Linked DNA regions of Homo sapiens. The protein of the gene in region 1 interacts with the protein of each later gene in a biochemical or structural test. Each region holds a gene or a part of one and is shown in the gene's direction. Other genes may lie near its edges.

Evidence for each region.
Region 2: the proteins of GBA1 (region 1) and OGT form a complex in vitro, tested with the Homo sapiens proteins (one large-scale study listed by BioGRID).
Region 3: of the proteins of GBA1 (region 1) and NEDD4, one has a biochemical effect on the other in vitro, tested with the Homo sapiens proteins (one large-scale study listed by BioGRID).
Region 4: the proteins of GBA1 (region 1) and POLI form a complex in vitro, tested with the Homo sapiens proteins (one large-scale study listed by BioGRID).
Region 5: the proteins of GBA1 (region 1) and TRIP12 form a complex in vitro, tested with the Homo sapiens proteins (one study listed by BioGRID).
Region 6: the proteins of GBA1 (region 1) and SNCA form a complex in vitro, tested with the Homo sapiens proteins (2 studies listed by BioGRID).

Annotation. Positions count from the first base shown.
Region 1 is NC_000001.11:155,233,952-155,238,249, reverse strand, and holds the end of GBA1 (lysosomal acid glucosylceramidase isoform 1 precursor), read left to right. Parts: coding exon 1-116; intron 117-671; coding exon 672-909; intron 910-1,780; coding exon 1,781-2,005; intron 2,006-2,405; coding exon 2,406-2,569; intron 2,570-2,938; coding exon 2,939-3,055; intron 3,056-3,149; coding exon 3,150-3,255; 3' UTR 3,256-3,798; downstream 3,799-4,298. UniProt on the Homo sapiens protein: Glucosylceramidase that catalyzes, within the lysosomal compartment, the hydrolysis of glucosylceramides/GlcCers (such as beta-D-glucosyl-(1<->1')-N-acylsphing-4-enine) into free ceramides (such as N-acylsphing-4-enine) and glucose.
Region 2 is NC_000023.11:71,550,104-71,553,603, forward strand, and holds part of OGT (UDP-N-acetylglucosamine--peptide N-acetylglucosaminyltransferase 110 kDa subunit), read left to right. Parts: intron 1-3,500. UniProt on the Homo sapiens protein: Catalyzes the transfer of a single N-acetylglucosamine from UDP-GlcNAc to a serine or threonine residue in cytoplasmic and nuclear proteins resulting in their modification with a beta-linked N-acetylglucosamine (O-GlcNAc).
Region 3 is NC_000015.10:55,857,613-55,861,112, reverse strand, and holds part of NEDD4 (E3 ubiquitin-protein ligase NEDD4), read left to right. Parts: intron 1-334; coding exon 335-452; intron 453-538; coding exon 539-706; intron 707-3,500. UniProt on the Homo sapiens protein: E3 ubiquitin-protein ligase which accepts ubiquitin from an E2 ubiquitin-conjugating enzyme in the form of a thioester and then directly transfers the ubiquitin to targeted substrates. Specifically ubiquitinates 'Lys-63' in target proteins.
Region 4 is NC_000018.10:54,279,517-54,283,016, forward strand, and holds part of POLI (DNA polymerase iota isoform a (long)), read left to right. Parts: intron 1-1,150; coding exon 1,151-1,387; intron 1,388-3,320; coding exon 3,321-3,499; intron 3,500-3,500. UniProt on the Homo sapiens protein: Error-prone DNA polymerase specifically involved in DNA repair. Plays an important role in translesion synthesis, where the normal high-fidelity DNA polymerases cannot proceed and DNA synthesis stalls. Favors Hoogsteen base-pairing in the active site.
Region 5 is NC_000002.12:229,859,510-229,863,009, reverse strand, and holds part of TRIP12 (E3 ubiquitin-protein ligase TRIP12), read left to right. Parts: intron 1-2,478; coding exon 2,479-2,604; intron 2,605-3,435; coding exon 3,436-3,500. UniProt on the Homo sapiens protein: E3 ubiquitin-protein ligase involved in ubiquitin fusion degradation (UFD) pathway and regulation of DNA repair.
Region 6 is NC_000004.12:89,820,162-89,823,661, reverse strand, and holds part of SNCA (alpha-synuclein), read left to right. Parts: intron 1-1,273; coding exon 1,274-1,416; intron 1,417-3,500. UniProt on the Homo sapiens protein: Neuronal protein that plays several roles in synaptic activity such as regulation of synaptic vesicle trafficking and subsequent neurotransmitter release.

The DNA of each region.
Region 1 (4,298 bases):
AGCCCCTGGACATCACCCACTTGGCTCAAGACCAATGGAGCGGTGAATGGGAAGGGGTCACTCAAGGGACAGCCCGGAGACATCTACCACCAGACCTGGGCCAGATACTTTGTGAAGTAAGGGATCAGCAAGGATGTGGGATCAGGACTGGCCTCCCATTTAGCCATGCTGATCTGTGTCCCAACCCTCAACCTAGTTCCACTTCCAGATCTGCCTGTCCTCAGCTCACCTTTCTACCTTCTGGGCCTTTCAGCCTTGGGCCTGTCAATCTTGCCCACTCCATCAGGCTTCCTGTTCTCTCGGTCTGGCCCACTTTCTTTTTATTTTTCTTCTTTTTTTTTTTTTTGAGAAGGAGTCTCTCTCTCTGTCACCCAGGCTGGAGTGCTGTGGCGCCATCTTCACTCACTGTAACCTCTGCCTCCTGAGTTCAAGCAATTCTCCTGCCTCAGCCTTCCAAGTAGCTGGGATTATAGGCGCCTGCCACCAGGCCCAGCTGATTTTTCTATTTTTAGTAGAGACGGGGTTTCGCCAGGCTGTTCTCGAACTCCTGAACTCAAGTGATCCACCTGCCTCGGCTTCCCAAAGTGCTGGGATTACAGGTGTGAGCCACCACACCCAGCTGGTCTGGTCCACTTTCTTGGCCGGATCATTCATGACCTTTCTCTTGCCAGGTTCCTGGATGCCTATGCTGAGCACAAGTTACAGTTCTGGGCAGTGACAGCTGAAAATGAGCCTTCTGCTGGGCTGTTGAGTGGATACCCCTTCCAGTGCCTGGGCTTCACCCCTGAACATCAGCGAGACTTCATTGCCCGTGACCTAGGTCCTACCCTCGCCAACAGTACTCACCACAATGTCCGCCTACTCATGCTGGATGACCAACGCTTGCTGCTGCCCCACTGGGCAAAGGTGGTAAGGCCTGGACCTCCATGGTGCTCCAGTGACCTTCAAATCCAGCATCCAAATGACTGGCTCCCAAACTTAGAGCGATTTCTCTACCCAACTATGGATTCCTAGAGCACCATTCCCCTGGACCTCCAGGGTGCCATGGATCCCACAGTTGTCGCTTGAAACCTTTCTAGGGGCTGGGCGAGGTGGCTCACTCATGCAAACCCAGCACTTTGGGAAGCCGAGGCGGGTGATCACCTGAGGTCAGGAGTTTAAGACCACCCTGGCCAACGTGTTGAAACCCTGTGTCTACTAAAATACAAAAAAAAAAAATTATCTGGGCATGATGGTGGGTGTCTGTAATCCCAGCTACTCAGGAGGCTGAGAAGGGAGAATCAGTTGAACCCGGGAGATGGTGGTTGCGGTGAGCCGAGATCGCGCCACTGCACTCCAGCCTGGGAGGCTGAGCGAGACTCCATCTCGAAACAAAACAAAACAAAACTATCTAGGCTGGGGGTGGTGGTTCATGTATGTATGTGTATATACATATATATGTGTTTATATGTATATATATATACACACACACACATACATACACACACATACACACACAAATTAGCTGGGTGTGGCACCCGTGTAGTCCCAGCTACTCAGGAGGCTAATGTGGGAGGATCAGTTGACCCTAGGAAGTCAAGGCTGCAGTGAGTCGTGATTGCGCCACTGTACTCCAGCCCGAGTGACAGAGTGACATCCTGTCTCAAAAACAAAAAAAAATCTCCCCAAACCTCTCTAGTTGCATTCTTCCCGTCACCCAACTCCAGGATTCCTACAACAGGAACTAGAAGTTCCAGAAGCCTGTGTGCAAGGTCCAGGATCAGTTGCTCTTCCTTTGCAGGTACTGACAGACCCAGAAGCAGCTAAATATGTTCATGGCATTGCTGTACATTGGTACCTGGACTTTCTGGCTCCAGCCAAAGCCACCCTAGGGGAGACACACCGCCTGTTCCCCAACACCATGCTCTTTGCCTCAGAGGCCTGTGTGGGCTCCAAGTTCTGGGAGCAGAGTGTGCGGCTAGGCTCCTGGGATCGAGGGATGCAGTACAGCCACAGCATCATCACGGTAAGCCACCCCAGTCTCCCTTCCTGCAAAGCAGACCTCAGACCTCTTACTAGTTTCACCAAAGACTGACAGAAGCCCTTCCTGTCCAGCTTTCCCCAGCTAGCCTGCCCTTTTGAGCAACTCTGGGGAACCATGATTCCCTATCTTCCCTTTCCTTCACAGGTCTGCACACCTCATTGCCCCTTTTGCAACTACTGAGGCACTTGCAGCTGCCTCAGACTTCTCAGCTCCCCTTGAGATGCCTGGATCTTCACACCCCCAACTCCTTAGCTACTAAGGAATGTGCCCCTCACAGGGCTGACCTACCCACAGCTGCCTCTCCCACATGTGACCCTTACCTACACTCTCTGGGGACCCCCAGTGTTGCGCCTTTGTCTCTTTGCCTTTGTCCTTACCCTAGAACCTCCTGTACCATGTGGTCGGCTGGACCGACTGGAACCTTGCCCTGAACCCCGAAGGAGGACCCAATTGGGTGCGTAACTTTGTCGACAGTCCCATCATTGTAGACATCACCAAGGACACGTTTTACAAACAGCCCATGTTCTACCACCTTGGCCACTTCAGGTGAGTGGAGGGCGGGCACCCCCATTCCATACCAGGCCTATCATCTCCTACATCGGATGGCTTACATCACTCTACACCACGAGGGAGCAGGAAGGTGTTCAGGGTGGAACCTCGGAAGAGGCACACCCATCCCCTTTTGCACCATGGAGGCAGGAAGTGACTAGGTAGCAACAGAAAACCCCAATGCCTGAGGCTGGACTGCGATGCAGAAAAGCAGGGTCAGTGCCCAGCAGCATGGCTCCAGGCCTAGAGAGCCAGGGCAGAGCCTCTGCAGGAGTTATGGGGTGGGTCCGTGGGTGGGTGACTTCTTAGATGAGGGTTTCATGGGAGGTACCCCGAGGGACTCTGACCATCTGTTCCCACATTCAGCAAGTTCATTCCTGAGGGCTCCCAGAGAGTGGGGCTGGTTGCCAGTCAGAAGAACGACCTGGACGCAGTGGCACTGATGCATCCCGATGGCTCTGCTGTTGTGGTCGTGCTAAACCGGTGAGGGCAATGGTGAGGTCTGGGAAGTGGGCTGAAGACAGCGTTGGGGGCCTTGGCAGGATCACACTCTCAGCTTCTCCTCCCTGCTCCCTAGCTCCTCTAAGGATGTGCCTCTTACCATCAAGGATCCTGCTGTGGGCTTCCTGGAGACAATCTCACCTGGCTACTCCATTCACACCTACCTGTGGCGTCGCCAGTGATGGAGCAGATACTCAAGGAGGCACTGGGCTCAGCCTGGGCATTAAAGGGACAGAGTCAGCTCACACGCTGTCTGTGACTAAAGAGGGCACAGCAGGGCCAGTGTGAGCTTACAGCGACGTAAGCCCAGGGGCAATGGTTTGGGTGACTCACTTTCCCCTCTAGGTGGTGCCAGGGGCTGGAGGCCCCTAGAAAAAGATCAGTAAGCCCCAGTGTCCCCCCAGCCCCCATGCTTATGTGAACATGCGCTGTGTGCTGCTTGCTTTGGAAACTGGGCCTGGGTCCAGGCCTAGGGTGAGCTCACTGTCCGTACAAACACAAGATCAGGGCTGAGGGTAAGGAAAAGAAGAGACTAGGAAAGCTGGGCCCAAAACTGGAGACTGTTTGTCTTTCCTGGAGATGCAGAACTGGGCCCGTGGAGCAGCAGTGTCAGCATCAGGGCGGAAGCCTTAAAGCAGCAGCGGGTGTGCCCAGGCACCCAGATGATTCCTATGGCACCAGCCAGGAAAAATGGCAGCTCTTAAAGGAGAAAATGTTTGAGCCCAGTCAGTGTGAGTGGCTTTATTCTGGGTGGCAGCACCCCGTGTCCGGCTGTACCAACAACGAGGAGGCACGGGGGCCTCTGGAATGCATGAGAGTAGAAAAACCAGTCTTGGGAGCGTGAGGACAAATCATTCCTCTTCATCCTCCTCAGCCATGCCCAGGGTCCGGGTGCCTGGGGCCCGAGCAGGCGTTGCCCGCTGGATGGAGACAATGCCGCTGAGCAAGGCGTAGCCCACCATGGCTGCCAGTCCTGCCAGCACAGATAGGATCTGGTTCCGGCGCCGGTATGGCTCCTCCTCAGTCTCTGGGCCTGCTGGTGTCTGGCGTTGCGGTGGTACCTCAGCTGAGGGTCAAGGAAGGAAGGTGTGTTAGGAGAACTAGTTCTTGGATCCCTGCCCACTCTCCCCAGGGCTGCCCCTCCCATCTGCCCCTTACCTCCATCCCAGGGGAAGTAGAGACTGAGAATGTGGGTACAATAGGCACAGAGGTTGTGCAGCCCACG
Region 2 (3,500 bases), on another chromosome or scaffold:
ATTAATTTGGAAAACTGGTTAAAAAGAGAAGAATAAAGTTTTTGAGGAACCTCTATACTAGTTCCCAAAATGGCTGTGCCAATTTATACTTCCCCCATCAGTTACAAGGCTTCCCTTTCTTTACATCCTCACTAACACTTGTTATTATTCGTCCTTTTGATGATAGCTATACTAACAAGTGTGAGATGCTAACTCATGGTTTTATTTTGCATTTCCTTGATGATTAGTGATGTTGAGCATATTTTTTATATATCTGCTTGCCATTTGTTTTTTTTGTTTTGTTTTGTTTTGTTTTTTTGAGATGAGGTCCTGCTCTGTTGCCCAGGCTGGAGTGCAGTGGCGCCATAATAGCTCACTGCAACCTCGAACTCCTGGGCTCAAGTGATCCTCCCACCTTGGTCTCCCCAAGTGATAGGATTACAGACATGAGCCACTGTGTCTGGCCTGTACCTCTTCTTTTGAGAAATGTCTGTTTAGATCCTTTGCCCGTATTTTAATGGGCGTATTTGCTACTGAGTTGAGCTTCTTAACCCTTTATCAGTTGTATAGTTTGCAAATGCTTTCTCCTAATCCGGGGTTGCCTATTCACTCTGTGTAATTGTTTCCTTTACTGTGCAGAAGCTTTTTAGTTTGATGCAATCTCATTGCATATTTTTGCTTTTGTTATCTGTGCTTTATGCTAAGTGAAATAAACCAGGCACAGAAAGTAGATACTGTATTATGTCACCTATTTGTGGAATCTAAAAAAGTTGATTTCATAGAAACAGAGAGTAGAAGGGTGGTGAGGCTTGGGGGGGTGGAGGAGGGATGGGGAAAAGGGAGATATTGATCAAAGTTTCAGTTAGACTGGAGGAATAAGTTTTAGTGATCTGTAGTACTGCATGGTGACCACAGTTGTTAATAATGTATATTTCAAAATTGCAAAAAGAATAGGTTTTTAATGTCCTCAACCACAAAAAAATAAGTTAGTGAGGTGATGGCTATGTTAATTAGCTTGGTTGACTCTTTCTAAAATGTATACGTGGATCAAACCATCACATTGTATGCCATAAATATACACAATTATATATCAACTTTAAATTTAAAAATTAAAAGAATAAAGCATATGTCTTCCCTCTCCTGTATGAACTAGACCATAGAGTAACCCAATAGTTGATGGGGGAAGCTTTTCTTTATAAAAGCATTCTAGCTAATAAGTGAAGAAGGAATGATAGAATATCACCATTAATAGTGAAAGCATTTATTAGGCCGGGCTTGGTGGCTCACGCCTGTAATCCCAGCACTTCGGGAGGCCATGGCAGGTGGATCACCTGAGGTCAGGAGTTCGAGACCAGCCTGGCCAACATGGCAAAACCCCATCTCTACTAAAAATACAAAAATTAGCCAGGCATGGTAGCAGGAGCCTGTAATCCCAGCTACTCAGGAGGCGGAGGCAGGAGAATCTCTTGAACCTGGGAGGTGGAGGTTGCAGTGAGCTGAGATTGCACCATTGCATTCCAGCCTGGGCGACAGAGCAAGACTCCATCTCAAAAAATAAAAAAAAAGTTAAAGCATTTATCAGTGACAAAAACGAGATACAATCAGGTATTAAGTACCTTGTGGTAAACAATTTCACCAGTGAAGTAGTCTTGCACAAAGAGAAAAGAACACAAACCTAATTAAGCTTCTGGTTCTACCTACCAATTTACAGGAGATATACACGGGACAGGAAACATGTTAAAGGACACCATAGGGATGCAGTCAGCAAAATTCAAACTTTGGGAAGCTGACCTTCTTACTTCAACAAATTGTAATAAAAATGGAGATTTAAATTAAACTTTTAGGCCGGGTGCGGTAGCTCACCCCTGTAATCTCAGCACTTTGGGAGGCTGAGGCGAGTGGATCACTTGAGGTCAGGAGTTCGAGACCAGCCTGGCCAACATGGTGCAACCCCATCTCTACTCAAAATACAAAAGAAAAAAAAAACAGCTGGGTGCGGTGCGGTGGCGTGTGCCTGTAATCCCAGCTACTTAGGAGGCTGAGGCAGGAGAATTGCCTGAACCCGGGAGGAGGAGGAGGTTGCGGTGAGCCAAGATCGTGCCACTGCACTCCAGCCTGGGCGACAGAGTGAGTGACACTCCGTCTCCAAAAATAAATAATGAGTGACACTCCGTCTCCAAAAATAAATAAATAAACACACAAACTTTTAAAGGATTAAAAGAAACTCAGAGAGGCACATTGACAAATTATATCTGTCTTATTTGGATCCTGACTCAGTTAATGAGAAATTGGAGCACTGAATGGATTTTTTTTTTTTTTTTTTTGAGACAGGGTCTCACTTGATCGCCCAGGCTGAAGTGCAGTGGTGTGATCTTGGCTCACTGCAACCTTCACCTCCCAGGCTCAAGGGATTCACTTGCCTCAGCCTCCGGAGTAGGTGGGACTACAGGCGTGCGCCATCATGCCCGGCTAGCTTTTTGTATTTTTAGTGGAGACAGGGCTTTGCCATGTTCCCAGGTCTTGAACTCCTGAGCTCAGGCAGTCTGCCTGCCTCGGCCTCTCAAAGTGCTAGGATTACAGGCATGAGCCACCACGCCCAGCTGATATTTAATATGAAGGAATTGCTGTCTTTTTTTTTTTTTTTTCTGTTAGGTATGATAATGGTATTGTGGTTAGGTTGGGAGGAAAAAGCATTCTTGTGTTGTCCCTGAGATACATATTGAAGTATTTTTGAATGGAATATGTCTGGGCTTTGCTTCAAAATGATCTGCGAAGAGGGGGAGTAAGTTGGAGTATAGATTAAATAAGATCAAACATGATATATGAATTGTTGAAAATGGATAATGGAGACTTGGACGTAATGTTCCTCTGCTTTTGTATATGTTTAAACATTTCTATTATAAAGTTTAAAAGTTCTTGGGGTGGACATCTATCACTATAGACAATCTAAATTAAATGCATCATGCCGTGTTTACTACAGAGTTGTCATCTAAGTGAAGATGAAGTGTTCTTTCTTTATTTTTTTTTGAGACAGAGTCTCGCTCTGTCGCCCAGGCTGGAGTGCAGTGGCACGATCTCAGCTCACTGCAGCTTCCGCCTCCCAGGTTCAAGCAATTCTCCTGCCTCGGCCTCCTGAGTAGCTGGGATTACAGGCGTGAGCCACCATGCCCGGCTAATTTTTTGTATTTTTTAGTAGAGACGGGGTTTCGCCATGTTGGCCAGGGTGGTCTTGAACTCCGGGCCTCAAGTGATCTGCCCGCCTTGGCCTCCCAAAGTGCTGGGATTACAGGCATGAGCCACCGCGCCCAGCAGATGAAGTGTTCTTTATCAGTCTTTAATAAACATACAATTACTCAGTGTCTTAATCAAATACCTTTTCGGTGTGTGTGTTTTTTTTTGTTTTTGTTTTTTGTTTTTGGAGACACAGTCTTGCTCTGTTGCCCAGGCTGGAGTGCAGTGGCGCAATCTTGGCTCACTGTAACCTCTGCCTCTCGGGTTCAAGCCATTCTCATGCCTCAGCC
Region 3 (3,500 bases), on another chromosome or scaffold:
AATAATCTATGAAGCGCTCTGATATTTATTCATTCAACAAATATTTTTGAGTACCTATATGTGTTGGACATTATCCTAGACATAGTGACAAACTAAAATATCAAATCAGACATGTTATACCTTTTCACAAAACCTTAAACTCCGTAAGGTACTCTAAATATACCAGTCTGCCTACCCATGATTGAATCTTTGCATGTTGAAATAGCCTTTGGTCAAAGACAATAAATTTTTTTATTGATGTAATGTAGATTTTTTTCCCAATGATCACAGAATCTTTGACAATCATTTTAACTACTTAAGACATGGATGATGGCTTTTTATACTTCCAATATAGGGACAACCTAACAGATGCTGAGAATGGCAACATTCAACTGCAAGCACAACGTGCATTTACCACCAGGCGGCAGATATCCGAGGAAACAGAAAGTGTTGACAACCGAGAGTCTTCCGAGGTATAAGTAGTTTCCTAGTTCTCCTTGAAAGACACATGCTATAGCAATAAAGTATGTGTGGCTCAAGCTTATTCTGTTCATTTTAGAACTGGGAAATTATAAGAGAAGATGAAGCCACCATGTATAGCAACCAGGCCTTCCCATCACCTCCACCGTCAAGTAACTTGGATGTTCCAACTCATCTTGCAGAAGAATTGAATGCCAGACTCACCATTTTTGGAAATTCAGCCGTGAGCCAGCCAGCATCGAGCTCAGTAAGATGCTCTTAGATTTTGTTACGGCTTCAGTAGTTTATATTATGCATATTATACTATTCAACAACTAACTTTTATGTAAAATTTTGTCTTAAATGCAATAATATGTAATAATACATTAGGGACCTTGGGACTTTACAACATGGTCATTTTTCAAATATCCTCATTAGTAGTATGGACCAGAGTCATGGCATCCAAATTTCCATTATGTCAGTGCCCTCCAGTCAAAAATCACTAGGGACACATTTGTCATTGAACAAGTTGGGTTTATTATTCATTTCAGCAAGGGAGAACACGCACCATTGGTGTTTTGGTAGCAGAATGTTAGAAAAGACTTCAGGGATTTGGGCTCCTGTTAGGTGATTTTGAAGAGGGTTTTAGGAAGCAGGACTTTGCTCTACATGAGATGCTGTTGGGAAGCAGGGATAATTCTATGATTTTGTATCTCAAATCTTATCTGTAGTGAGGCTAAAGCTATGATTAGCAAAGTAGAACAGTCACTCACATTTGCCAGGATGGGGAAATGTTTGGTATTTTGTGGCTTGGACAATGTTCATGTTTTGTCTATATTCAGCCACGATTACAGAGTGGTCTTGATTTTGTCTTGATCTTACCTATGAGTGCCAGGCCAGCTCTTGGATGTTAGGGACTGCTTTTCTCTCTCCCAGTTATGCTGAAGTTGGTTTTTTGTTTGCTTGTTTGTTTGTTTGTTTTGAGACATCTCACTCTGTCACCTAGACTGGAGTGCAGTGGTGCTATCTCGGCTTACTGCAAACTCCGTCTCCAGCTTCAGGCGATTCTCATGCCTCAGCCTCCTGAATAGCTGAGATTACAGGCGCACACCACCACGCCCAGCTAATTTTTGTATTTTTAGTAGAGATGGAGGAGTTTCACCCTGTTGGCCAGGCTAGTCTTGAACTCCTGGCCTCAAGTGATCCACCTGCCTCAGACTCCCAAAGTGCTGGGATTACAGGCATGAGCCACTGCTTCTGGCCTGAAGTTTTAACATTATATCACAGATGTCACCAACAGGTATATATGAATAAGAACTGATATACTTTGACTAAACAAGGAGATAGATGACATTTTCACTTCAGCCACCACTGTAAAAACTGTTGTCCATAGGGTTCAGAATAAAGTATCCCAGCATATGCTTCCACGATGAGAACTTCATAGCTAGCTGTCTAATATGTATCATCAAGGGAGATTGAGTAGAAGACAAAGATTATTCTCTGAGGATGCTATTTGTCATTTCCAGTTGAGGTTTCCCTGCCTTTCATTTAGTTAGTAAATATTTAATGAGAGCTGATCACATATATGCAGAGTACTATATGCTAGTTACTGAGGATACATCAGTCAATAAAATTAACAATATCTCCTGCCTTCATGGGACTTACATTCTAGTGCAGAGGAAAGCAAACTACAACCGGTGGGCCAAATCAGCAGCTGCCTGTTATGAATAATTACCATTGGAATACAGCCACATCATTTGTTTTGGTATTGCCCATCTCTGCTTTCACACGACATCATCTGAATAAAGTAGTTACAGCAGCAACCATATGGCCCACAGCCAGTATTTACTGTCTGGATCTTAACAGGAAATGTGTGCTAACCTCTGCTCTAGCATCTTCTTCAAGAAGCTTCACAGTAGATAGTTGTACGTGAATATGAATATCTGCCAGTAAATCCGCCTGCCTGCCTCCTGCCCTTCCTTTCTTCCATTTGTCTGTTCTGTCTTCCATTCATTTCATTTTTTCACAGGGGAGTGGGACAGGTCAGTCAAAGACCTAAACTACATTAGGCCAGGCGTGGTGGCTCACGCCTGTAATCCCAGCACTTTGGGAGGCTGGGATTATAGATGGGTTGAAGTCAGGAGTTCAAGACCAGCCTGGGCAACATGGCGAAACCTTGTCACTACTAAAAATACAAAAATTAGCTCGGTGTGGTGGTGCACACCTGTAATCCCAGCTACTTGGGAGGCTGAGATTGGAAGAATGGCTTGAACCCAAGAGGCAGAGGTTGCAGTGAGCCGAGATTGCACCATTGCACTTCAGCTTGGGTGACAGAGTGAAACTCCGTCTCAAGAAAAAAAAAAGAATAAACCATATTGATTTGCTGATGATAAATCACATACGATCCCATTCCCCTTCTTCCTGGTATTTTTTTTACTTAAAGTAATACATGGCAACCATATAGTGTAATACTATGCAGCCATTGAAGAGAACAAGGTGGGCTCGAGTGTATATGTTGGATGGAACAATCCCTAAGAGATGCTGGTAAATGAAAAACAGCAAGGTACAGAACAGTGTGTTTGTTACACCAGAATTTATGTAAATTATTTAAATGCAGAGCATAAATATGTGTATAATTTACTCGAGGACTAAACAGGAAACTAATAACTTTGCTTGCCTCTGAAGAGAGGCAAAGAATGAGCAGGATATATATTGTTTGTACCTTTTGTTTTTTTGAGATAGGGTCTCACTCTGTCGCCCAGGCTGGAGTGCAGTAGCATGATCATAGCCCACTGCAACCTCAAATTTCTGGGCTCAAGGGATTCTCCCACCTCAGCCTCTGGAGTAGCTGGTACTACAGGCACATGCCATTGTACCCCTGCTAATTTTTTTAAAAAATTTTTGTAAAGACTTGGTATAGTATTGTTTCCCAGGCTCCTTTTGAATTTTATAACATGTATGAGTGTTACCTATTTTAAAAAATATTTTTAAAGCACTGTATGGTTATGGTTACAAATTGAGATTGTATTTAGGTATATAAAATAAAATTTAAGACTGGGCAT
Region 4 (3,500 bases), on another chromosome or scaffold:
ATAGGCATGAGCCACTACTCCTGGCCCATTATGTCCTTTCTTGTAGATAAACCAGTTGTTATCGTTTTGCCACATTTGCTTTCTCTTGTTCTCTCTATGGATTGCTTGGTTGGTTGATGAGCTATTTGGAAGTAAATTGCAGACATCCTGACATTTCATCTCTAAATACTTTTAGCGTTAGTCTCTTTGAGGTTAGGATGGTTTCATGTCATTCCAACACTGTTTTACACCTAAAGCAAATTTATTTTTATATAATTTTCTTACACTTTTCATAAAAGAGCTCTAAAACTGTGTACAGGTCAGAGATTGTTTCTAGCAGCATATACTGCTAGTGCGTGGTTAAGATTTAGATCTTTAAAGTATAATGTTAGCTTTCTTGTTATATAATAATACTTCTATGCCTACTTACGGGTAAATATGAGTAAAAGTTTTGCCAATGTCAGTAGGAATTTTTTTATGAGATCAGTTTTCACAATGTGTTAATTATTAAGCACTCCCACTACACAGTCACTATCACAGGCCCTTGGAATTTGCTTATTGAATTTGTTTACAGTATTCCTATGAAGCATGAAAGAGATTAGTCAAGTGGATAACAGGGTGGCAGTGATCTCTTAGTCCATTTAGTGTTGCTTTAACAGAATACCTGAGACTGGGTAATTTATAAAGAAAAAAAGGTTTATTTGGTTCATGATTCTTGTGGCTGGAAAAGTCAAGGTTAGGCCTCTGGTGAGGGCCTCAGGCTGTTTCCACTCATGGTGGAAGGCAAAAGGGAGCCAGTGTGTGCAGAGATCACATGGTGAGAGAGGAAGCAAGGGCTGGGGGAGGTGCCAGGCTCTTTTAACAACCAGCTGTCTTTGGAACTAATACAGTCAGAAACTTACCCCTGAGGGAGGGCTTTAATCTATTCATGAGGGATCCACCCCTGTGATCCCAACACCTCCCATTTGACCCCACCTCCAACACTGGGGATCAAATTACAACATGAGGTTTGGAGGGGACAAATATCACAACCATACCAGGTGATGATGGTGGTGGTTGTGGTGGTGGTGGTTGTTGGATATAGACTAAGCCCTCTACCTTTTAAAAATTATTTTGTGAAAAAGAAAAAGGTTTTTCTTGTGACTTTGAATGACATTTGTTGTTTTTAAAGCTATAAACCTGCTTGACGTCTTGCACATCAGACTACTTGTTGGATCTCAGATTGCAGCAGAGATGCGGGAAGCCATGTATAATCAGTTGGGGCTCACTGGCTGTGCTGGAGTGGCTTCTAATAAACTGTTGGCAAAATTAGTTTCTGGTGTCTTTAAACCAAATCAACAAACAGTCTTATTACCTGAAAGTTGTCAACATCTTATTCATAGTTTGAATCACATAAAGGAAATACCTGGTAAGACAAATATATTTGAAAAGTACATATACGTCTTATTTTATTTCTTTTAATTTAAAAAATTATAGATACAATGTAATTAATTCTTAGGTAGAGTTGTCTGTGAGTTTGTGTGCATGTGTGTGTGTGTGTATACTTGGTTCCTGGAAAAAACTAAGAAAAACTGTAATGTTTTCTCAAGCAAATTTGGATTAAGAAATATGTGAAGGTACTTTTCTTATTTTATCTACTTTTGTATGGTTAGAATATGGTCATGAAAGTTATAGCCTAGAAACATATGGTCCTTTATTTCCAGTCCCTGGGTCATACTCTTATACTGTACATTGCCTCTAGAGAGGGGAGTTCGTCTTTTACTAACTCTTTTGGGATTACATATAAAATATTAAGGCTACAATGGACTTTCCAAAACATCTAGGCCAAGGTCCTCATTTTAAAGATTAGGAAACTGATTTCCATGAGGAGTTCGGTGACCTATTTAGGTCATGGGGCAAGTTTGTATCTTTGAAGATTAAATACCCAAGTTTTTATAGGCCATCAATATGTTGAACTACATTTCTGTGGTATTGCTAGGGAATAAGATGTTATAAAAGAGTTCTGTGGAAGTGAATTTCTAATACCACTGAAACTTAGATGTCATACTTCACATTTTTAACTGATACTTGCGTGATTCCAAAATGTATTATACACTGCCTTGCCTTCCTTAGTATAGTATAACTATAATTTGAAGTTTTTTGGATGACTTTGGTAGTGCATTCTGAAGAACAATGTCAGGTTGTAATAAACTGAGGACTATATACTGGTGCAAAACATTCTTACTTGGCTTTACTTTCGAGTTCTTGTATCTTTTTTTTTTTTTTTTAACAGGCTTTCTCCTTTCTCACTTATTGCCAAATTGCCAACCTTCTTTTTTTTCTGCTGTGAAAAATCTGTCACTCTACTTTAATAGTTCCCCCTACATAGCCATCTCCTCCAACTTACTGCTTTTACTGTGCAAGAAAACCAGATAACTGTGGAATTACTGTTTTTGAATGAAAAGAATAAGGAGACATTAAATAGCCTGTTTTCTCTTGTGAATAAAGTATGACCGAATTTTAGTGCAAGAACTTTGTGACAGTTTTGCTAGCAAGATTTTTTGTTTGTTTGCTTTCTGGCTCATAGTTGTATTCTGGATGGTAAATGTTAGATATGACTTATGGATAAATGTGTGGTGGTGCGTATAGGAATCAGTTAGGTTACCTAATATGTACACTTAATTTATTTTAATTGCTCTAGTGGCAGCCTTTTTGTATATTAATAATAATCATGATTTCTGAATATTTCTGGAATATTACATAACAGGTGGTAAAATTTTTGTTTTAGTAAGACAGCATTTATTGGCTGTCTCTGTATTCATTTTATTTTACTGCATTTTGTGAGGACTTCAAAGAGGTGCATATAATTCAGGAGCCCTGAGTGGAAGAACAGCAACCTAGTTTGCAATGGGGTTTGATCTTTGCAAAATACAGTAGTCCCCCATTATCTGCAGTTTCACTTTTCACAGTTTCTATTACCTGCAGTCAACTGTGGTCTGAAAATAATAAGATATTTTGAGAGAGAGAGGCAGAGACCACATTCACATAACTTGTATATTGTATATTGTTATAGTTCTGTTTTATTATTATTGTTAATCTCTTACTGTGCCTAATTTATAAATTAAACTTTATCATAGGTATATATGTAATGGGAAAAACAGTACTGTATATATAGGGTTTGATACTGTCCATGGTTTCAGGCATCCACTGAAGGTCTTAGAATGTATCCCCTGTGGATAAGGGGGGACTACTGTATAAATTATAGAACTTAAAGATAAGATTGATATATTTATAATATTTTAATTAGCTTTGTTTTAAGGAGAAAAGCTATTTTAACATTGTATGCATTTCTTTTTATTTAGGTATTGGCTATAAAACTGCCAAATGTCTTGAAGCACTGGGTATCAATAGTGTGCGTGATCTCCAAACCTTTTCACCCAAAATTTTAGAAAAAGAATTAGGAATTTCAGTTGCTCAGCGTATCCAAAAGCTCAGTTTTGGAGAGGATAACTCCCCTGTGATACTCTCAGGACCACCTCAGG
Region 5 (3,500 bases), on another chromosome or scaffold:
GACACATCCGCCTCTGTCTCCCAAAGTGCTGGGATTACAGGCATGAGCCACCGTGCCCTGCTGGGCATTGCTGAATTTAAGCCAGTTTTGTGAGCCTTGGTTTTCTAAATGATTTGAATACTGTTTACTTTTTGTGGTATAATATAGAGAGTTTACATGCTAAGTTCTTAAGTTCATTGAAGGTATTAGTAAGGGCATGAGAAATAACACAGGAGTAGAATTAGGTGGATCTAACATAAGCTATATAAAAGTCAACAGAACAATTTATTTGAGTTAAAAAGAGGAGGGCTGCTGCCCCAGACCTCACCTTTAGTTTCATATGGGCCGGTTTCTGATGACAAATGGAATGAATCATAATTTTTAATTGTTTTGGGCATTTATTTTTCACAAAGTTGTCTAGCTTTGAATGTATGTAGTTTTCTTTCAGAATGAGTTGTTTAATTATCAAGGAATGCAACAAGCTATATTTTAAATTTTAAAATGAAATAAAGTAGAAAACGTGATTTAATTAAAACATCAGTCTGCAACGATCTTTAAGAAAATAAGAATGTAGAGGACCTGAATGACATAATTTATATTTCCTGTAGCTGTTAAATTCCACACCCCAAAAACAGAACGTTACACCTCTTTTTTAGAATAACTATGGAATGATTTGAAAAATAGTCTCATTTCTGAAGAAAAAAGAGTTGAACTCTGAGATCTGTTAGTAGAAATATAACAAAAACAAAAGCAACTCTTAGAAATTAAATCTCTAATAAACTCATTGGTTAAAGCAAAATTTTAGTCTGCAATGGGAGAATATCTAGGAAAAATTAAAATTAAATCACAATATATACAAGGCAGGAAAATCACATGATCCTGGGAGGCGGAGGTTGCAGTGAGCCGAGATAGTGTCGCTGCACTCCAGCCTGGGCGATAGAGCAAAACCCTGTCTGAAACACCAAAAAATAAAAAATAACAACAACAACAACAAAAACACAATGTATAAAAAATCTTACAAAGTTCAGCTTAGCTACAACTTTAGAAAATATGCTTCTTGAAGTATATGTGTCCTTTCATTACTAAAAGTGAAGACTAATAACACTTGAAAGGCTCACCTAGAGTTTTGTTTTTTTGTTATTTTTTTTTAAGAAATTCATCTATTCTAATAAGTCTTTAGAACATATTATTACTTTCAGATTAGAACCTTAAAAACAAAAATGATATGAGGGATCCAGGAACTATTTCCTTTCTTAAGAAGCTAATTTCTTACCTTCTTTTAAGACTCTTTTCATGAATTCTGGAAAGATGGAAGAAGAAGTGATACAGAAAAGAGAAACCTTAGGTCCTCTTTTGGAACAGATGGTTGTACTTGTATGATATCTTAAGAAATTTATGGCATCCTTACAGATTGAGTTAGAATTATTTTGTGAGATTTTCAGTGACTCATTTCTAAGTTCTTTTGAGATGGTGTTTGGAATAAAAGCCTTAAACTTTTTTTTAACAAGTAAATTTGGTATTAATGAAACTTTTTTCTAGATTTTCATTGGTATATGCTCTTATGTGGAAAGTGGATATCAGCTATGAATTACATAAATTGCATTTGTTACATTAATATCTCACCCGAATGGCAGCAGTTTTCTGGATATCAACATGTGTTTGTTTTTTATTGCTTATGTAAATCTCATGTAACCATTCCCCAAGGTCTAAAAAATAATCTAACTGAAAACAGTTTTTTCATGTTCCTCAAACTTGCTTTTAGAATAGTGCTGGCATAAGGATTTGATTTATTGTAAATATGATGCACCATATCAATCATGGAATTATTTGAATGTTTTTTGGAACTTTTGTGGTAAATTCCATATTTCTCCAGGACTTTTTTGTGTTCTTTCTGTTGACAAGTACTTTAAAGTTTTAGCAAGTATCACTATGTTGATTTCATGTAGGTTTATTTATTGTTTAGTGCTTGAAATGATTTTCTGTGTAAAATCAGTTTGAGAATTGGTTCGTCTGTCTCTGCATTTGCTGTGTTTACCTGAATTTTAAGTACAAATTGGAAATCGGTATCAGTGTGGGAATCATCAATTGTCTTTTCCGTAAACTTTTAAAGCCATTACAGTCACATTATGTATTAAAAGTGTGTTTAGATCTAAAGTCTAAATTTGCTTTTTGTTAAAATGTAGCATATTTGAATATCTGCACTAAAATTGCTGAAAAATGTGTTACTGCTTAAGCAACCTTAACAACGCTGTGCAATTATGACTACTGGTGATAATAAACTCTTCGGTATTGCGGGGCGGGGGTGGTTCTGAGAGGCAATTTCTTTTTGCCAGATTATTTAGTAGAATAATAATTAAAATTTATAAATATTTGGAAAAAGGGTAGGGTCAACAATGAATTGTGGGAAGCTTTAAGAAATATATAAAAATATTTCATTTTCAGTATTGTATTTGCATCTCAGTTTCCTGATAGATTTCTGTTTTGATTTTCTGCTGACAGGTCACATTTAGGGCAGGCAAAACATAAGGGATATAGCCCTCCTGAGAGTAGAAAATCTAATTCTAAGGCACCCAAAGTGCAGTCTAATACTACTTCTGAACTGTCAAGGGGACACCTTTCTAAAAGGTAAATCTTCATGTTGCTTATACATTTTCAAGGCAGAATTATTTGCATTCAAATCATTGCATAATGTTAAAACTTGAGGTTATTCCAAAACGTTTTGATACATATTTTCATTATTCTCTAAGTAACTTTTAGGATTGACAGTTTATCACCTTTGCAGTGATTAGTGCAGTATACCCTAGACAGTGAGTTTGTCAATGATAAAATGATATTTTTGTTTGGAGAGCCGTAAGATTCCCCCTTTGCTTAACAAACCATTATGGCCATTTTTTATTTCTTTTTATTTTTTAATCTTTTTTTTAGTTTTTATTGTCAGAGCCATAGTTTAGGTTTAAGTCAGTGATTCTTAAGATTTAATTGTTAAGAGACTTTGGAAAGCAATGTTAACTTTGAAGATTTGATAGTACTACAATATAAAAATCTCTAACCTTCATTTTGAAAGTGCGTATGTTAATGCTTATTTCTTCTAAGCTTTGACAAAGCAGTTGTGCTTGTGAATAGGGCATCAATATTCTGGCTTCCTCTGGTTCCGAACAATTAAGTGTTGTTTTTCTTGTAATCTTAATTCTTGTTTTGTGATTACGAGTGTTAGTGTCAGTAATCTTTGGGCTAAAGAACACCCTTATCTTTTAATCAGATATTTTAGTATCCAAAGTCACATCTGCTTTTGTTTTGTTCTTTTATTTCGTTTTACAGATTTGAACCTTCTGAAAACCTATGTTTAATACTGGACTTAGTAGGAACATATTCATACTTTATTTTTTGAAAGCATTATATATGACAGTTGTAATTATGACAGGCTGATATTAACTGTTTTCTTATCTAACCTCTTAGAAGCTGCAGTTCATCATCTGCTGTGATAGTTCCACAACCAGAGGATCCAGACAGAGCCAATACTT
Region 6 (3,500 bases), on another chromosome or scaffold:
AAGAAAATGTGCCTTCATTTCCTTAGATGAGTGTCCCCATCCTCCACTCTCCTCCACTGTTCTCCTCTCTGCTTCTATGATATCAACTTTTCTTTTTCTTTAGATTCCACATGAGTGAGATCATGTGGTTGTTTGCCTTTCTGTTTCTGGCTTATTTAACTGAACAAGAAAGTTTTTGACATGAAATTAAACTTCTGCTTGTAAACTCAATTCAAACTATTTACACTGTCTTCTCAAAAATGTTAACTTATTTTAATAAATCTACTGAATGACCGTATCTCATTTTGTTTTATGAAAAGAAATTGTAAGGGTGCTCAATAGCCTCTTCATTTTCATACTGTCTAGCTCCTGTGCTCCTATTAAAATTACTGCAAATTTAGCTTTTTAAGAACCCTTTGTTTCACTACCTGAAGTTCTATAAAAAGATCCAAGTTCCTTCACAACCGTTTCTTATGCTGTTATTCGTACATATGTGATAATACCACGTCTGAACACGTAGATAATAAGTAGGGGCTGGGTGCGGTGGATCATGCCTATAATCCTAGCACTTTGGGAGGCTAAGGCGGGTGGATCACCTGAGGTTAGGAGTTCGAGACCGGCCTGGCCAACATGATGAAACCCTGTTTCTACTAAAAATACAAATAATAATAATAATAATAATTAGCCAGGTGTGGTTGTGGGCACCTGTAATCCCAGCTACTCGGGAGACTGAGGCAGGAGAATAGCTTGAACTCAGGAGGCGGAGGTTGCTGTGAGCTGAGATTGTGCCATTGCATTCCAGCCTGAACAACAAGAATGAAACTCCATCTCAAATAAATAAATAAATAGAAGTATGTATTGTGTTGCTTAGAAGGTGTGGTGGAAATTAACTTGCTGAGTGAGATCAAAGGATTGGCACTGAATTGAAATAAAGAAATATTCATGCTGAGTCTGGTTCAAATATAACTGCACCTGTAAGAATTGCTTTCTGTAAACTTTCCATAGTATAAACCAAATCCAAATCACTCATGGCTTTACATTCCTGATCGTTAAACTTGAAGCACTTTTTAATACTGCATGACTTTAGCCAAAATATCTTAGCCAAGATTCAATGTTTGGTTGAACCACACTCACTTGGACATCTTGGTGGCTTTTGTTTCTTCTGACCACTCAGTTATCTATGGCATGTGTAGATACAGGTGTATGGAAGCCGATGGCTAGTGGAAGTGGAATGATTTTAAGTCACTGTTATTCTACCACCCTTTAATCTGTTGTTGCTCTTTATTTGTACCAGTGGCTGAGAAGACCAAAGAGCAAGTGACAAATGTTGGAGGAGCAGTGGTGACGGGTGTGACAGCAGTAGCCCAGAAGACAGTGGAGGGAGCAGGGAGCATTGCAGCAGCCACTGGCTTTGTCAAAAAGGACCAGTTGGGCAAGGTATGGCTGTGTACGTTTTGTGTTACATTTATAAGCTGGTGAGATTACGGTTCATTTTCATGTGAGGCCTGGAGGCAGGAGCAAGATACTTACTGTGGGGAACGGCTACCTGACCCTCCCCTTGTGAAAAAGTGCTACCTTTATATTGGTCTTGCTTGTTTCAGGCATTAACCCAGATAAATGCCATGCAAATTTTATAATTATTATGATTGTTTCAATTTCTGGAAGAAAGTTAATGAAACAAAAAATGTAGTAAAATGCCAAAGGAACAGTGACATTTCAGAAAGAATGAGGGCTTTCATGTTAATTGTAAGTCTTGGAATTTCTCTTCCTTGGAGTAACAAATCCCTTTGTGCCTAATTTCCTAATTTCCAAAATAAAGTTCTTTTACTTATTTCTTTATAGTGACATCATCTCTTATTAAATGGCATATCTGCATATTACATAACAGTTCATTGCCAAATACATATTTGTGGGAAATGAGAGACTTAAAATACATACCAACCAGAGATATAGTTTTGAGGTAGATTTTAAAATTCTGAGAAGAATTTTGACTGAATTTTTTTGACAAACATGGGACACGAATAAGATTATACCAAAGATATTATAACTTTCATTTTAAATATGGAACTAATACAGTATGAGGTGTCAACAACGTTGAAGTTTCACAAACATCACCACTACAACAGCAAAATAATTTTTGCTTTTTCCCTGCCACAATGACCTCCTTGCTATTTCTTGAATAAATCAAGCATACCCTTGCCCTGACACGTTCTTGGGGAGGCCTGCCCTAATCTATATAAAATTGGAGCCATTCTTCTCACCTCTGGTATTCCCAGTCTCCCTACTTTTTTTCCTTCTTTCTTTCTTTTTCTTTTTCTTTCTTTCTTTCCTTCTTTCTCTCTTTCCTTTCTTTCTTTTCCCTTCCTTCCTTCCTTTCTCCCTTCCTTCCTTCCTCCCTCTCTCCCTCCCTTCCTTCCTCCCTTTCTTTCTTTCTCTTTTTTCTTTCTTGCTTCCTTCCTTCCTTCTTTCCTTTTCTTTCTTTTTCCTTTCTTTGCCAAAGTGTTATTCACCTTTAAATATAATACATAATGTGCTTACTTTAATGTATGATTTTTATTTTATTTCTCCCTTCTAGAATGTAGGCACCATGAGAGTGAAATATATTTATTTTGTTCATTGATATTTCACAAGTGTCTGGGAGAGTTTCCAACTTACAGTAGACAATTAACAAACATTTATTAAATTAAGGAGGGAAGGAAGTGAGTAAGCACAACAACTTTCATTTCTGGGTCTTTTATAATCATATGCTTAGTATAAGAACAGTGCTATTCAGCTATCCAAAAGTTACAATCAAAATGATTTTGGATGAATATCTTGAAAATTGTGAGAAAGAAGTTTTATTTGCTGGCAAACTATTCTGGGTTGTTTCCACTTCATGTAATCCTAAGTAGCAGCCTTACCTTGATAGCCCATTAAAACTCTGATAATAAAAAGGCAGAACAAAAATATCTGTGATATATTTAGATTTACTACATGTACTTACATGTCTAGTGTCTGGTGCAATGGATGCTAATGATGGCAAATCCTTACTGGGCTTCTAGTGAAGTTCTTCAGCTAATGTTTGAATGCATGGTTGGTCATGGTGGTACCCCTTTGTACAAAATATGCTTTTCAAATAATCTTATTAGGGATAATAATTATATTAATTCCTGGTTTCCATCTAAAATTTTAATTCTATTTATAGCTTCGTAAGATTTCACAAGTTAAGAGGGACCTCAGATTAAATTAGTACACAGGCAATTAATCAGTTTTGTGTCTCCGACCCTTTTCACGGGCTAATAGAAGCTATAGACCCTCTTAGCTTCAGAAAAATGCGCACTCACATACGCACATCAAAGAGCTTAATGGGAAGTCCATTGACAGACCCTCTGTTCAGATCAATCTTCTGATTGTAGAGATGAGGAAACAGAAATCTACAGAGGAAGTGGGTAGTCCAAGATTGCACAGTCATTTGGAATAGACTGGACACCAGTAGTACTTTTCCAGCCACTATATCACTTCCCCAAGCACTTCCTCAAAAC